Regions from separate parts of the Homo sapiens genome. Here regions 1 and 3 are each linked to region 2. The links come from fine-mapping of genetic effects on gene expression. A gene starts in region 2. Each other region holds a variant in brackets. All regions are shown on one strand. Distances are from middle to middle.

Region 1 (4,239 bases), 64 kb before region 2:
ACAAAAACAGAAAAATATTATGCACTTTGTAATAGAAGAAAATATATGTAAGATAATCTGCTATGCACCACTTAATACTCATCTTATTTAATATTTATAACCACCTAGCAAAGTAGTTATTGACTCTGTTTCACAGATGAGGAAACTTTAACTGGGAGAGGTTAGGTCACTTGCCAAAAATCACACAACTGGTTAGAGGCAGAGACTGAGTTTGCACTGAAATTTGACTTCATTCCAAAGCCTTTTGTGGACTCCCTAAAGCTGGTTACAGAGCATGTGCTACAGGCATGCTACCAGAAGACAGAAGGAATTTCAACCCGGCAGGGCAGGGACCCAGCCTGAGGTTTTCTTAGGACACCAAGGTTTCCTTAGGAAAAGCAAGCTGGTCTGGTTCTGTAAGCATATTGCAAAACTCTCCATTGCTCAGTCATTGCATCAGCATCCTGGAGGCTGGAAGGGAGCTCCCTAGAGCTACCTGGTCCTCCTCAGTTTCAGAAAGCTCAATGCAAAATACAGGTGATACTGACAGCAAGCAGTCTCCCTGTTTAAAAAGATCACGGTCAGTCCTGCAAACTGAAAAACTTTTCTCAAGGATTGTGCTTTGTAAGTGGCACAAAAAGATGATTCTGCGCAAGAGACCCAGAAGACCCTGTGGCAAATGGAAACAGTGCTACTCTCAGATCTTCTACTGAGCTGAGGGAAGAGCCACAATATCTCTTTTTTTTCTTTTTCTTTTTCTTTTTTATTTTTTATTTTGGAGATGGAGTCTCACTCTGTCACCTAGGCTGGAGTGCAGTGGTGCAATCTTGGCTCACTGCAACCTCCGCCTCTTAGGTTCAAGTGATTCTCCTGCCTCAGCCTCCTGAGTAGCTGGGATTACAGGTGCCCACCACCACGCCCGGCTAATTTTTGTATTTTTAGTAGAGATGGGGTTTCGCCATGTTGGCCAGACTGGTCTTGAACTCCTTAACTCAGGTGATCCACCCGCCTTGGCCTCCCAAAGTGCTGGGAATACAGGCGTGAGCCACTGAGCCCGGCCCACAATCCCTTTTCAATTCAAACCCACTTTGCTAGAAAAATCTTCATTCCTCCCTACTTCCTGCAGGATGAAATCTCACCTTGGTTTGGGGCTTGAAATCTCATTTTCCCCACTAGACTGTGAGCTCTTTGAGCCTAGAACTTGTTATAATTATCTTGGAATCCCCCACACCTAGCACTGTGCCTGGCACATGATCAGTGCCCAGCAAATGCTTGTCAAAGAAGAATTAATCAAGGGAGGAAGACTGGTCTCACCAGAACTGTCTTAAGGGGGACCCCAGTGAGGCACAGCTCACCCTCCCACTAAACTTACCTAAAACTCTCCTTGTTCCTGCCAGCTGGGTTTGCTGTCTGTATCTGGGGCATACCTAGGCCCAGATCAGGCTCAACACTTTTGTTCACACCAGCTGCTTTCTCCTTCATTCTAACTACCCCAACCTGAAGTAGCTTTTCCTCTTTCTGACCAGTTCCAGCTGTCCTCAGATTTATTAGGCAATAAATTGCATACTCCTGATATGCCCC[C/T]GACAGCAATTCTACTGTTGTCTTGGGCTGTTCTATAAATCCTTTATTGTTAAGGTTTCACATGCTCACATCTTACCTGTTCAAATAGATTATCAGATACTGGAGGGCAAGTGCCCTGTATAATCTATCACTGCATTTTCATGCTAGCCTCTGCAGTGCCTGACACCTAGGTGTCAACCAACATTTCTAGGTTTATTTTGAAGATGGGCCAACTCTCTATGCTCCCATCTTTCTGTTTTTACCAAGAGTGTCCTGAACAGACAAAAAGTAATTTGGTAGCAATTTTCTGTCAGAACATATTTGAAATTTAACATTTCTGAGAATCTCTGCTGTCTCATTGGAAATGAAGGAAACAAACATTTGCTGAGGGCCCACTATGTGCCAGGCACTGTGATAGGAGCTTACATATACAGCTAGAAGAAATTGAGCCACCAAGACCTGAGGAGGAAGGTTCCTGTCTCAGCCCATTTTCTGCTGCTATAACACAATACCACAGACTGGGAAATTTACAAAGAACAGAAATGTATTTCTCACAGTTCCAGAGGCTGGGAACTCCAAGATCAAGGCGCTGGCTGGTTCAGTTGCCTGGTGAGGGCTGCGTCCTCCAGAGAGGAGGAACATCGAGTCTTCACATGGTGGAAGGCAGAAGCGTCAATCAGACAAATGCTATATGAAGCCTCTTTTGTAAGGGTCTTAGTCCCATTCAGCTGGGAGAAGCCCTCATGACCTAATCACCTCTTAAAGGCCTAAATCACCTAAATTTAGGTGACCTAAATCACCTCTTAATACTATCACCTGAATTTTGGGGCGGTCACATTCAAACCATAACAATCCCTAAAACCCTGGACCCAATGTCTCCAATATCCTCAAAAAACAAAAATAACAAAACACCTTTCTGGATGGTTTCTATCCATGAACAGCTGCAGAAAGCTGATGGGGACCAAAAAAAGAGGGAAACCAGCTTAATTAATCCTGCTGCTGTTGCTGCTGCTCCCACCATAAAATATAGTAAAAATTGGAAGTGGGATACAGATCTGTCAACACATTCTTCTGATGTCACAAGTAGGCACTTTTACGCTCAGGACAAGGAGGCCATACCAATGGAATGCAGCCTGGTGCCTTATTTCCAGCAGTTACCCTCATCACTCCAGAACTGCGGGTGTCCCATGACTGGGCCAGGGTGGCCTGGGCCTTGCGGTCAGGAGCCACTGCTGTCAATCCACATCCTAAAAGGATTTCTTCTCTCTCAGGTCCTGCCTGCAGATCCCGGGATGTACCCGGTCAAGGTAGGGTTTTAACATTAGCCTTTTTTAAGTTCCCAAGATGATTTTAATGTGTGGCCAGAGTTTTTGCCTCTGAGCTTTGTTTCTGACCTCCTGGGATGCCAGAATGAAGATTCTGGGTTCTGTGCATCACCCTATCCCCAAGCCTTGATCAACCCTGGCCTGAGGCAACCCCACTCCTCCCTAAACATAGCCCCCAGGCATCAAGGAAGGCAATGGATTACTAACATTCTGCTCCACTATACTCCTTCCTGTTCCCCTCTTTTATCTGAAGTGCGGGCCCCTCCTCTCCGGGAGCCTTTTCCTGCACACCCTCAGTCCCCTGCACCTTCCCTCTTGGCAACAGTTATGATCCAGCACCTGGCCAGCACATACTCACCCACTACCTGGTGGTGGAATACAGCCACTCACATGGTCATGCTTTGTCTCCTCCCAGAAATCACAGACTCCTTGGGGACAAGAAACATTCCTTGTACCTCTTTATGCTTTAACAGTGACAAGCATGGAATGCTGTGCACACAATAGACATAAGAGGTGCTTAAATATTGACGGGAGGAAGAGAGGGAAGGAAACAAGGAAGGATAAATTCTTATTCAGCATCTCTCATGAAGCTTGTGGTGAAACAATGAACAAGTAAGTAGAAGATAAAATAGTTTCCAGAGAGTGGTATGTGTAATTTAAAAATTAATAAATCAGCATAAGGAGATGGGCAATGGATGAATAAATAAATGAATGTATGAACTTACCAAATTTCTGGTAAATGCAAACAACACAAATATTTAAGTTATGCCCACCCAGGATTTTTCCCACCAGATGTATAGAGCTAGAGGGAGCCACTAAATGTTTAAATTAGTTTGTGAGGGCTGTCATAACAAAATACCACAGACTGGGTGGTTTAAACAACAGAAATTTGCTGTCTTACAGTTCAGGAGGCTAGAATTCTGATATCAAACTGTCAGCAGTGTTGCTTCCTTCTAAGGATTGAGGGAAGTATTTGTTCCAGATCTCTCTTCTTGGCTTGTAGATGTCCATCTCTTCCCTGTCTTTTTTTTTTTTTTGAGATGGAGTCTCGCTCTGTCGCCCAGGCTGGAGTGCAGTGGTGCAATCTCAGCTCACTGCAAGCTCCACCTCCCGGGTTCATGCCATTCTCCTGCCTCAGCCTCCCAAGTAGCTGGGACTACAGGCACCCGCCACCACACCTGGCTAATTTTTTGTATTTTTAGTAGAGACGGGGTTTCACCATGTTAGCCAGGATGGTCTCGATCTCCTGACCTCGTGATCCACCTGCCTCAGCCTCCCAAAGTGCTGGGATTACAGGCATGAGCCACCGCGCCTGGCCTCTTCCCTGTCTTTTTACATTGTCTCCCCTCTATTTGTGTCTCTGTATTCAAATTTC
Region 2 (4,239 bases):
AATTTCAACCGGCCCGGTGTGGTGGCTTACGCCTGTAATCCTGACACTCTGTGAGGCTGAGGCAGGCAGATCACCTGAGGTCGGGAGTTCGAGACCAGCCTGACCAACATGAAGAAACCCCGTCTCTACTAAAAATACAAAAGTAGCTGGCATGGTGGCACATGCCTGTGATCCCAACTACTTGGGAGGCTGAGGCAGGAGAATCACTTGAATCGGGGAGGCGGAGGTTGCGGTGAGCCGAGATCGCGCCACTGCACTCCAGCCTGGGCAACAAGAGTGAAACTCCGTCTCAAAAATAAATAAATAAATAAAGATACATTTCAATTATTTAAGGTCCCAAACCATTTTGTTTTCACCCTCCTACTGCTATCGGGCCCCTAACAATTATTAACACTTTTTCCAATGCCTCATTGGCCAAGGGATGTTTTTAGGTTGGCCTGCAGGGTTTGAAAATTTGGTTACCAACATTTAAAAATGCAGAGATTTCACACAAAAATCCAATTTTGGGGTTTCTTTTGGGAGGAAAAAAATTGAACATCTGAGAACACTGGACCCACATTCCTGAGGGCAACAATCTGCTAGAGTTGAGCAGCTGTTCCTTTTAGTTATGGCATGGATATTCCAATTTGCCATTTTCCCTATCATTCCCCATTGTCTTACACAAGGCCAGTCTCACTCATTTGCTTTACTTGTCTGGCCTCTGTAGCCATTTGAATCTGCAAACACTATCTAGACCTTTCCTGTCTTCCATCAAAGCTTACTTTGTTCTGTCCCAAGTCCTTCATCAGTGTTTCAAAGCAAGAGCCAGGTAATCTGATCAAATATAGGTCCTTTAACATGTGCTTTCTGGAGACAGCATCTTAACAGAAAGAGATGACTCTGCAGGTAGAAATTACAGGCACCACTGGATTACAATCAGGATGGCAACTGTCTGTTCTACTTTCTCTGTTATCTTGACGTAGCCATACCTCACTGTTCTAAAGCAGACCAAAGGAACTGGTTCTATGGTAGAACAATGGACGCTGGTCTTATGTATGAAATCTTCTCAAGCTGCACTTTTATAGATCACCCTAGTTCCAAAAGATCCAAAGCTACCACGGGCTCCTCTGACCCCCCCATTTCCTCGGAGGCTTCAGGATATCCGGCCTGACGGCATTTCCCCTCACCTGCTTTCGGGGCCCGTTTTGCGCTGGGCAGTTGCGCCCAAGGAGCGCGCGCATCCAGCATGAGCTCATTTCTCATGGGCGTTTCCAGAGGCCCGGCCGGGCCGCGCACACCAAGCGCAGCAAGCCTCTGTATCAATGGCCCCCGCGGCTGGGCGGGGCGCGGCCGCCCAAAGGCGCTGCCTTTCTGGAAGCTTTGTTCCCATTTTAGCGTCTGAGAGCTTGCAGCCGGCTGGGAAGGCCCCCTTGGTCCGTCTGGCCCTTTCGGGGAAGAGGCCAACACTCGGCACACGCGATCCACGGCAGAGGGGAGCCTTGGGCGCGCAGAATTGGCTGCGCCCCGCCGAGAGCCTCCTGTGGGTGGGGAGAGCCCCTCCACCCCTCTGCTCGCTTGAGCGCTCAGAGCCCAGGGCCGCCGACCGCAGCACTTTCCGATTTGCTGCACCGAGGGCCCGCGGTCCCTGTGTGCGGTTTCCACCGTTGTTGGAGGCGGCCGCAGGCGAACCGTCGGGTCGTCAGCCACGACCCGAGTCAGGCATCTCCCCGCTCCTGGGACCGGGGCCGAAGGCCAATCACACTGCAGCTAGGTCTTGCGATTGGACGGCAGTGAGAGCCGATTGGCCGCCGCCGCGAGTTTCGGGCTCCCTCCCTCTCCCTTTTGCCCCAACTCCAGCGCCTAAGCTTCAGGCCAATGAGACAGCGCTTTATAGACGCCCTCCCTTCGCTTTCTTCTCCCCACCTTGGAGAGGGAGGGGAAGTCCTGACTGGCCAGACTGTCCTCGGAAGCCCCCTTCTCTTCACCAATCACCGAAGGAGGTACGCTCCCAGCGGAGTTTTCCAGCCAATCACAAAGCGGCGGCGGCGCCCAGCCGTGCAGTTTCACCAGCGTCTCTGGGTTTCACCGTCCTCAACTCTTCAAGCCTCTTCGTAAGGGCCGGCGACTCTGATTGGCCACTGTTGCCATTGTCGAATGTCTCCTCCAGCCAGCCACCGAACAAGGCGAATTCACCCTTTCCGTTCGGCTACCTTCGGCATTTTCCGCTCTTTGGGCGTGGCTTCCCAGCGTCACTTTCTAATTGGTTTCTCAGGCTGATCGGCTTTTTCCGGGAGGAGCCGCAAACAAACGACGTCCGTGATTGGCTCCGTTCGGGCTTCGGCTCCCAGCCGAAGCGGGCGAGCGTGGGGCTCGGCCGGCGATTCCCAGACGCCTGTTACGCGGGCGGCGGGGCGCTGGGCGGTGTAAGGCTGGGTGGGGGAGGAAGGAGGTGGAGGACGAGTAGGAGGGGGGAGGAGGAGTGGGGAAGTGCAAGGCGGCTGCGCAGACAGCGCTCCTCACACAGAGCAGCTCCTGACCCGGGCGAATGCGGGCTTGTGCCGCCGCCGCCGCCGCCGCCGCCCGGGCCAAGTGACAAAGGAAGGAAGGAAGCGAGGAGGAGCCGGCCCCGCAGCCGCTGACAGGGCTCTGGGCTGGGGCAAAGCGCGGACACTTCCTGAGCGGGCACCGAGCAGAGCCGAGGGGCGGGAGGGCGGCCGAGCTGTTGCCGCGGACGGGGGAGGGGGCCCCGAGGGACGGAAGCGGTTGCCGGGTTCCCATGTCCCCGGCGAATGGGGAACAGTCGAGGAGCCGCTGCCTGGGGTCTGAAGGGAGCTGCCTCCGCCACCGCCATGGCCGCTGGATCCAGCCGCCGCCTGCAGCTGCTCCTGGCGCAATGAGGAGAGGAGCCGCCGCCACCGCCACCGCCCGCCTCTGACTGACTCGCGACTCCGCCGCCCTCTAGTTCGCCGGGCCCCTGCCGTCAGCCCGCCGGATCCCGCGGCTTGCCGGAGCTGCAGCGTTTCCCGTCGCATCTCCGAGCCACCCCCTCCCTCCCTCTCCCTCCCTCCTACCCATCCCCCTTTCTCTTCAAGCGTGAGACTCGTGATCCTTCCGCCGCTTCCCTTCTTCATTGACTCGGAAAAAAAATCCCCGAGGAAAATATAATATTCGAAGTACTCATTTTCAATCAAGTATTTGCCCCCGTTTCACGTGATACATATTTTTTTAGGATTTGCCCTCTCTTTTCTCTCCTCCCAGGAAAGGGAGGGGAAAGAATTGTATTTTTTCCCAAGTCCTAAATCATCTATATGTTAAATATCCGTGCCGATCTGTCTTGAAGGAGAAATATATCGCTTGTTTTGTTTTTTATAGTATACAAAAGGAGTGAAAAGCCAAGAGGACGAAGTCTTTTTCTTTTTCTTCTGTGGGAGAACTTAATGCTGCATTTATCGTTAACCTAACACCCCAACATAAAGACAAAAGGAAGAAAAGGAGGAAGGAAGGAAAAGGTGATTCGCGAAGAGAGTGATCATGTCAGGGCGGCCCAGAACCACCTCCTTTGCGGAGAGCTGCAAGCCGGTGCAGCAGCCTTCAGCTTTTGGCAGCATGAAAGTTAGCAGTGAGTATTGGTTTTATTTTACACCCCTTTTCCACCTCGCCCTTAAAATAAGAAACCTCGAAATACCAGGATCTGAAATTATTAGACCTCCTGATAAACAGGCAATGGAAAAGGGCAAAACCTATCTTCAGTCAAGGATGAAGCAGCTCCCTTTTTACTCCTCCCATACCCCCTCCCCCGGTCTCATTAACCTTGAATTGAGATAATATGATATTTATTTGGATGATTCGATTTCAAACTGCTTTCTTGTACTTTTCTTGCTGTTGGTAGTCAGTTTCATCAAGTGCTCGAGTGTTTCCACGTTAAAGTAGTGATGACAGTGTTTACTTGCCCATCCTTTAGAATAAAGAGAAGGACAAGATTTGATTACTAAACCATTATGCACATTTGCAGAATTTTTGGAATTTGGAATGAGAGAATATTTTAGGTCTCAGGGGTTATCATAGTTTGATATACTTAATAGAGACGTTAAATGTCCCACCCTCCCAACATTTTTTTCTTGTTTGTATGACTACACATAATATTTGTTCTTAATCTGTGGATGAACTTCCTCAGTAACCATTCACATTTGGAGGCTGCCATTGATTTCTCTCTTTAGAAGGGACTAGTGGGAGCCAATAAATACCTAGCAGCAGTAACAT
Region 3 (4,239 bases), 56 kb after region 2:
ATATGTGTTTCCATGGGCTTCTTTGTATTCTTGTAGTATGGGTTCCATCCTGTGCTCACCACCATCTTATGGACATCTCTACTTCCAGCACTGGCCCAACTACAATAAATGCCGGTGGATATATCAGCTGGAAGGTTATCTACCACTTACTCAGGAAAATTAGCTGCAGGGATGCCCAGCTGCTTGGAGCCGCAGCCAAATCCCTGCACCACTTGGCCCCAGCAGAAGTAAGGCAGATGTCCCATAATGTAGCCTGTTCGGGGTTTGGCCCGTGGCCTGGTCTGCATGTTTTGCAGAGCCACCCTTTACATGGTGCCTGAACCCTGGACCAGCAAGGGGGCAGGAGCGTGGGCTCTGCCTACTGTGGAGGCACACCAGGGCCCGGACGATGCCAGTGACACAGTGTGGCAGATCCTTGATGCTGCCCACCCTACAAAAGCTGCCTGGCGACTTAGGTGCATGGAGTCCCTTTAAGGAGGGATACTTAGGCTGGGAGGGAATAGGTTCATAGGGTGTTGATTCCCAAGAGTGAGAATTGTAAGGAGGAGGAGTAACATGAGTAGGGGAAGGATATGAAGCAGGATCTAGGATGGCAACAGCTGCCTGAGAGGAAAGGGTTGGGGTCACTGAGCAGGGGAAGACAGTGTAGGGGATCCCATGTGATGGTCTTTAGGCATGGGAACTGGCTTTTCTAACCTTTTATTATCTTTCCAATATTTTAACATGAGACCTAGGGGGCTAGGTCTTTTAACAAGAGATTGGGGGGACTATCTTTGTTGCTGTTTTTATCCTTTTTACTTCTTGTCTTGCTTGGCGTATTTCCCATGTTGGGTCCTAGTTAGGCTGAATCCCTTGTACTAAAGACTTCTTGCCTATTCTTCTCTGGGGGCTTGTTAAGGCTCAATCCTTTGTATCAGTGATTTCTTGCCTATTCTTCCTTGGGGAGCTTGTTAAGGCTCAATACCTTGTGTTAGAGATTTCTTGCCTATCCTTTAGCCCCACCTACTGGAGGTTTCTTGCACCCTTTTTTCGCTGCATCTGCTCTGGCCACTTCCCTCGCGGGAATATTTCAGGTCCCTCTTAGCATTGATGGCGGGTCAGTATAAACTCCTGACAGGATCCCCAAAGGGCCGCCCTAAGCTGTATGAGGTGACCACGGAACTGCCGATAGGACCCACTCACTCTGCACAGCAGTAGTGCTTAGTACCATTCACACAAGCAGCACTGCAAGCAGTAGTGCTTGTGATCATTTACACACTTTTAACCTCCAGAATCCCAACCACCAAGGAAATACTTTGTCGCCCCTGCGACCTTCTGACTTTGGTCTGTGCACAGAGTTACCTAGTCGCTGTGGTATGTGAGCCTCCTTTCCCCGAGCTGCCGGCCTGTTTCTTTCCCATGTTGCTGAGAGTCTGGGTTTATTTGTCACACTGGGTGGGCCTCAATTCCTTTATCCCTGAGGCTGCTGCAACGAGGCAGTGGGGCGCACCTCTTCACGGGAGAGGACCAAGACCCTTTCCCAGAGGAGAATGGGAATCCCGGATGAGCCCGCAGATTTGTTGGAGATAAATGCTCAGTGCCAAAAGTTTTCTCAGCAAGGCAATTTACTTCTGCAGAAGGGTGTATCTTGCAGATGGAGCAATGGCAAAAGCACAGGGAGCACAGGAGAGAAGGGGTTTTTATCTCTAATGCATAGTCCCTACCTCTGTGTCACTCCCGCATGGGCTGGGTTCGGACTACACAATCTAAGCAGACCCGATTGGCTACTTGTGAATATTTTTTCCAAATAAGAAAAGGGGAAGGTGAGTTACAGTGATGGGATGTGTGGTTTCGAAGGGTGATGTGTGGTTTCTAATGGGTGGAATGGGTGCAGAGTGTTTAACCAAGGGAACAGTTGTAAGCTATTGATAAGAGCTGACAGGAAGATTGGTTTTTTTTTTACAGTAACTAGAGGCAAGGAGGCATGGAAAACAAGAAAGTTGAGTTTGAGAACAAAAAACGAGGAAGTTAACAACCTGAACCTTTGAAGAGAAATTCAGAAAAATTCATTGTATCTTACAGACATAAGTTTTCAACTCACTTGTGTAAATATCTATGAGTGTGATTGCTGGGATTGTGTGGTAAGACTACATTTAGCTTTGCAGGAAACTGCTGATGTGTCTTCCAGAATGGCTGTACTATTTTACATTTCTGCAAACAGTGAGTGAGAGTTCCTGTTGCCTCACATTTTCA[T/C]CAGCTTTTGGTGTTGTCAGTGTTTGGGATTTTAGCCATTCTGTTCCAGTGGATGTATAATGGTATGGCATTGTTTTAATTTACAATTCCCTAATGACATATGATGTTGAGCATCTTTTCATATGCTTATTTGCTACCTGTATATCTTCTTTTGTGAGGTATCAGTTCAGATTTTTTGTACACTTTTTAATTCATTTGTTTTATTATTGAGTTTTAAGAGTTCTTTGTATATTTTGGATACTAGCCCTTTATCAGATATGTGTATTGCAAATATTTTCTCCCAGTCTATGTCTTGTCTTTTCATCCTGTTTCATAGTGTCTTTCTTTCAAAGAGCAGAAGTTTTTAATTTTAACGAAGCCCACTTTTCCATTTTTTTTTTTTTTATGGACTGTGCTTTTGGTGTTGTATGTAAAAAGTCCTCGTCAAACCAAAGGTTACTTGGATTTTTCCTGTTATCTTTTAGAAGTTTTATAGCTTTGCATTTTACTTTAGGTCTATGATGCAGTTTGAGCTAATTTTTTAATTTTTGTGAATTTTTGTGCATTTTGAGTTAATTTTTGTGTAAGTTGATGTGTGTTTATTTGCATGTAGATGGTCGCTTATTCTAGTACCATTTTTCAGAAAAAGACTGCCATCCCTTTTTGATGTCCTCTTTCAATGATGCACATGTTTTTTTGAGACAGAGTCTCACTCTTGCCTTGGCTGGAGTGCAGTGGCTTGATCACAGCTGACTGTAGCCTCAACCTCCCAGGCTCAATCAGTGCTGCCATCTCAGCCTCCCGCGTAGTTGGTATCATAGGTGTGGACCAGGGTTTCACCATGTTGCCCAGGTTGGTCTTGAACGCTTGGGTTCAAGGAGCACACCCACCTTGGCCTCCCAAAGCACTGGGATTACAGGCATGAACCACCATGCCTGGCCTCAGTGGCACAGTTTTGAGGGTGAATTATGATAACTAAAATTGAAGAAGAAACCTGAGATTGTTGTAATTAATAATTTGACTTCATATTATGCCTTTAAAAATAGCTTAGGAGGAAGTAACATGTTGAGTAAGCGCCTGGGCTCTGGGATAAATTCCGAATTTGCTATTTACTTGCTGTGACATTGGACAAGTTACTGAACTGTGCCTCAGTTTCCTTGTATGTAAATGTATTTTTAGGTTAAATGAACAATATTTAATATAAATTGTTTAGTACAGTATCTTGCATATGTTATAGCTATGGAAGATTATTAGTAATAAAGACTTCTTTAGATGTTTTATATATTTTTTATTCATCAGTTCCTCTTATTTTATTCTCTATAGTGTATTACAGGAAAATATAATAGTGTTAACCTATGGACTGTTTGTGTAGTTATTGATGTCATCTGGCAGAAGCAGATTTACATAAGGGAGTTTAATGACTGACCTAGAATAACCATCATAAAGAGCATAAAATGTAAAAAATGGAGTTCTAAATGCATGCTTATATGCTCAGTATTTTCTGAAACCACTAAATACCATTAAATACCTCAAGACTAAAGGTTTGATGTGTAAGATGGTAAAAAAAAAAAGAGCTGTAGTGCTTTATTTTTATTTTTTATTTACTTCTTTTTTTGAAATAGGGTCTCTCCCTGTCACCCAGTCTGGAGTTCACTTTATAAAACATATTTCCTTCCTTTGCATATGACGTATTACACACTACCGGCTTGCTTAATATATTTAGGATTGTTTCTTATTTTAGATTTTGAGTTATCTCTCCAATAAGAATACAAGTTCTTCGGGATAATGTGTCTTCAGTTTTTCAGTCTGTCACCATTTCTGGATGGAGAAGCTCATGTTTCTTAATTGCTTAAGAAGTTAAGCAATTTGGATAATTGGATAAGCTATTACTTTTAAATTATTGCTTTATTTTATCTTGCCATTTGATTCTTCCTTCTAGAGTGGATAGAGGGACCATTTACAATATAATAGCGAAATGCATATCTGTTTTTAAAGTTAGAACTGGAAGGCCAGTAAGATAAACAAGGG

What was found. PIP is the estimated chance that this variant, and not a neighbour inherited with it, causes the effect.
Region 1: its variant is the best candidate, but not a certain one, in a credible set for the expression of GSK3B in whole blood (INTERVAL, PIP 0.72).
Region 3: its variant is the best candidate, but not a certain one, in a credible set for the expression of GSK3B in whole blood (INTERVAL, PIP 0.60).

What each region holds. Positions count from the first base shown.
Region 1 is chr3:120,156,346-120,160,584 of GRCh38, reverse strand. The region is part of intron 1 of LOC105374065 (a long non-coding RNA gene); the gene reads right to left. Among named protein-coding and RNA genes, the nearest start is that of GSK3B-DT, 63 kb to the right of the region's middle. The variant C/T (reference allele first, on the strand shown) is at 1,561.
Region 2 is chr3:120,092,706-120,096,944 of GRCh38, reverse strand. It overlaps GSK3B (glycogen synthase kinase 3 beta), which reads left to right and starts at 2,498. Exons shown (of 11, transcript NM_001146156.2): 1 at 2,498-3,598. The coding sequence starts at 3,511. GSK3B-DT (GSK3B divergent transcript) reads right to left here and starts at 1,841. Exons shown (of 3, transcript NR_186629.1): 1 at 1,167-1,841. RefSeq lists enhancers at 1,390-1,709, 1,989-2,283, 1,910-2,319.
Region 3 is chr3:120,037,196-120,041,434 of GRCh38, reverse strand. The region is part of intron 1 of GSK3B (glycogen synthase kinase 3 beta); the gene reads left to right. It also overlaps the pseudogene RFKP3. Among named protein-coding and RNA genes, the nearest start is that of MIR6529, 45 kb to the left of the region's middle. The variant T/C (reference allele first, on the strand shown) is at 2,233.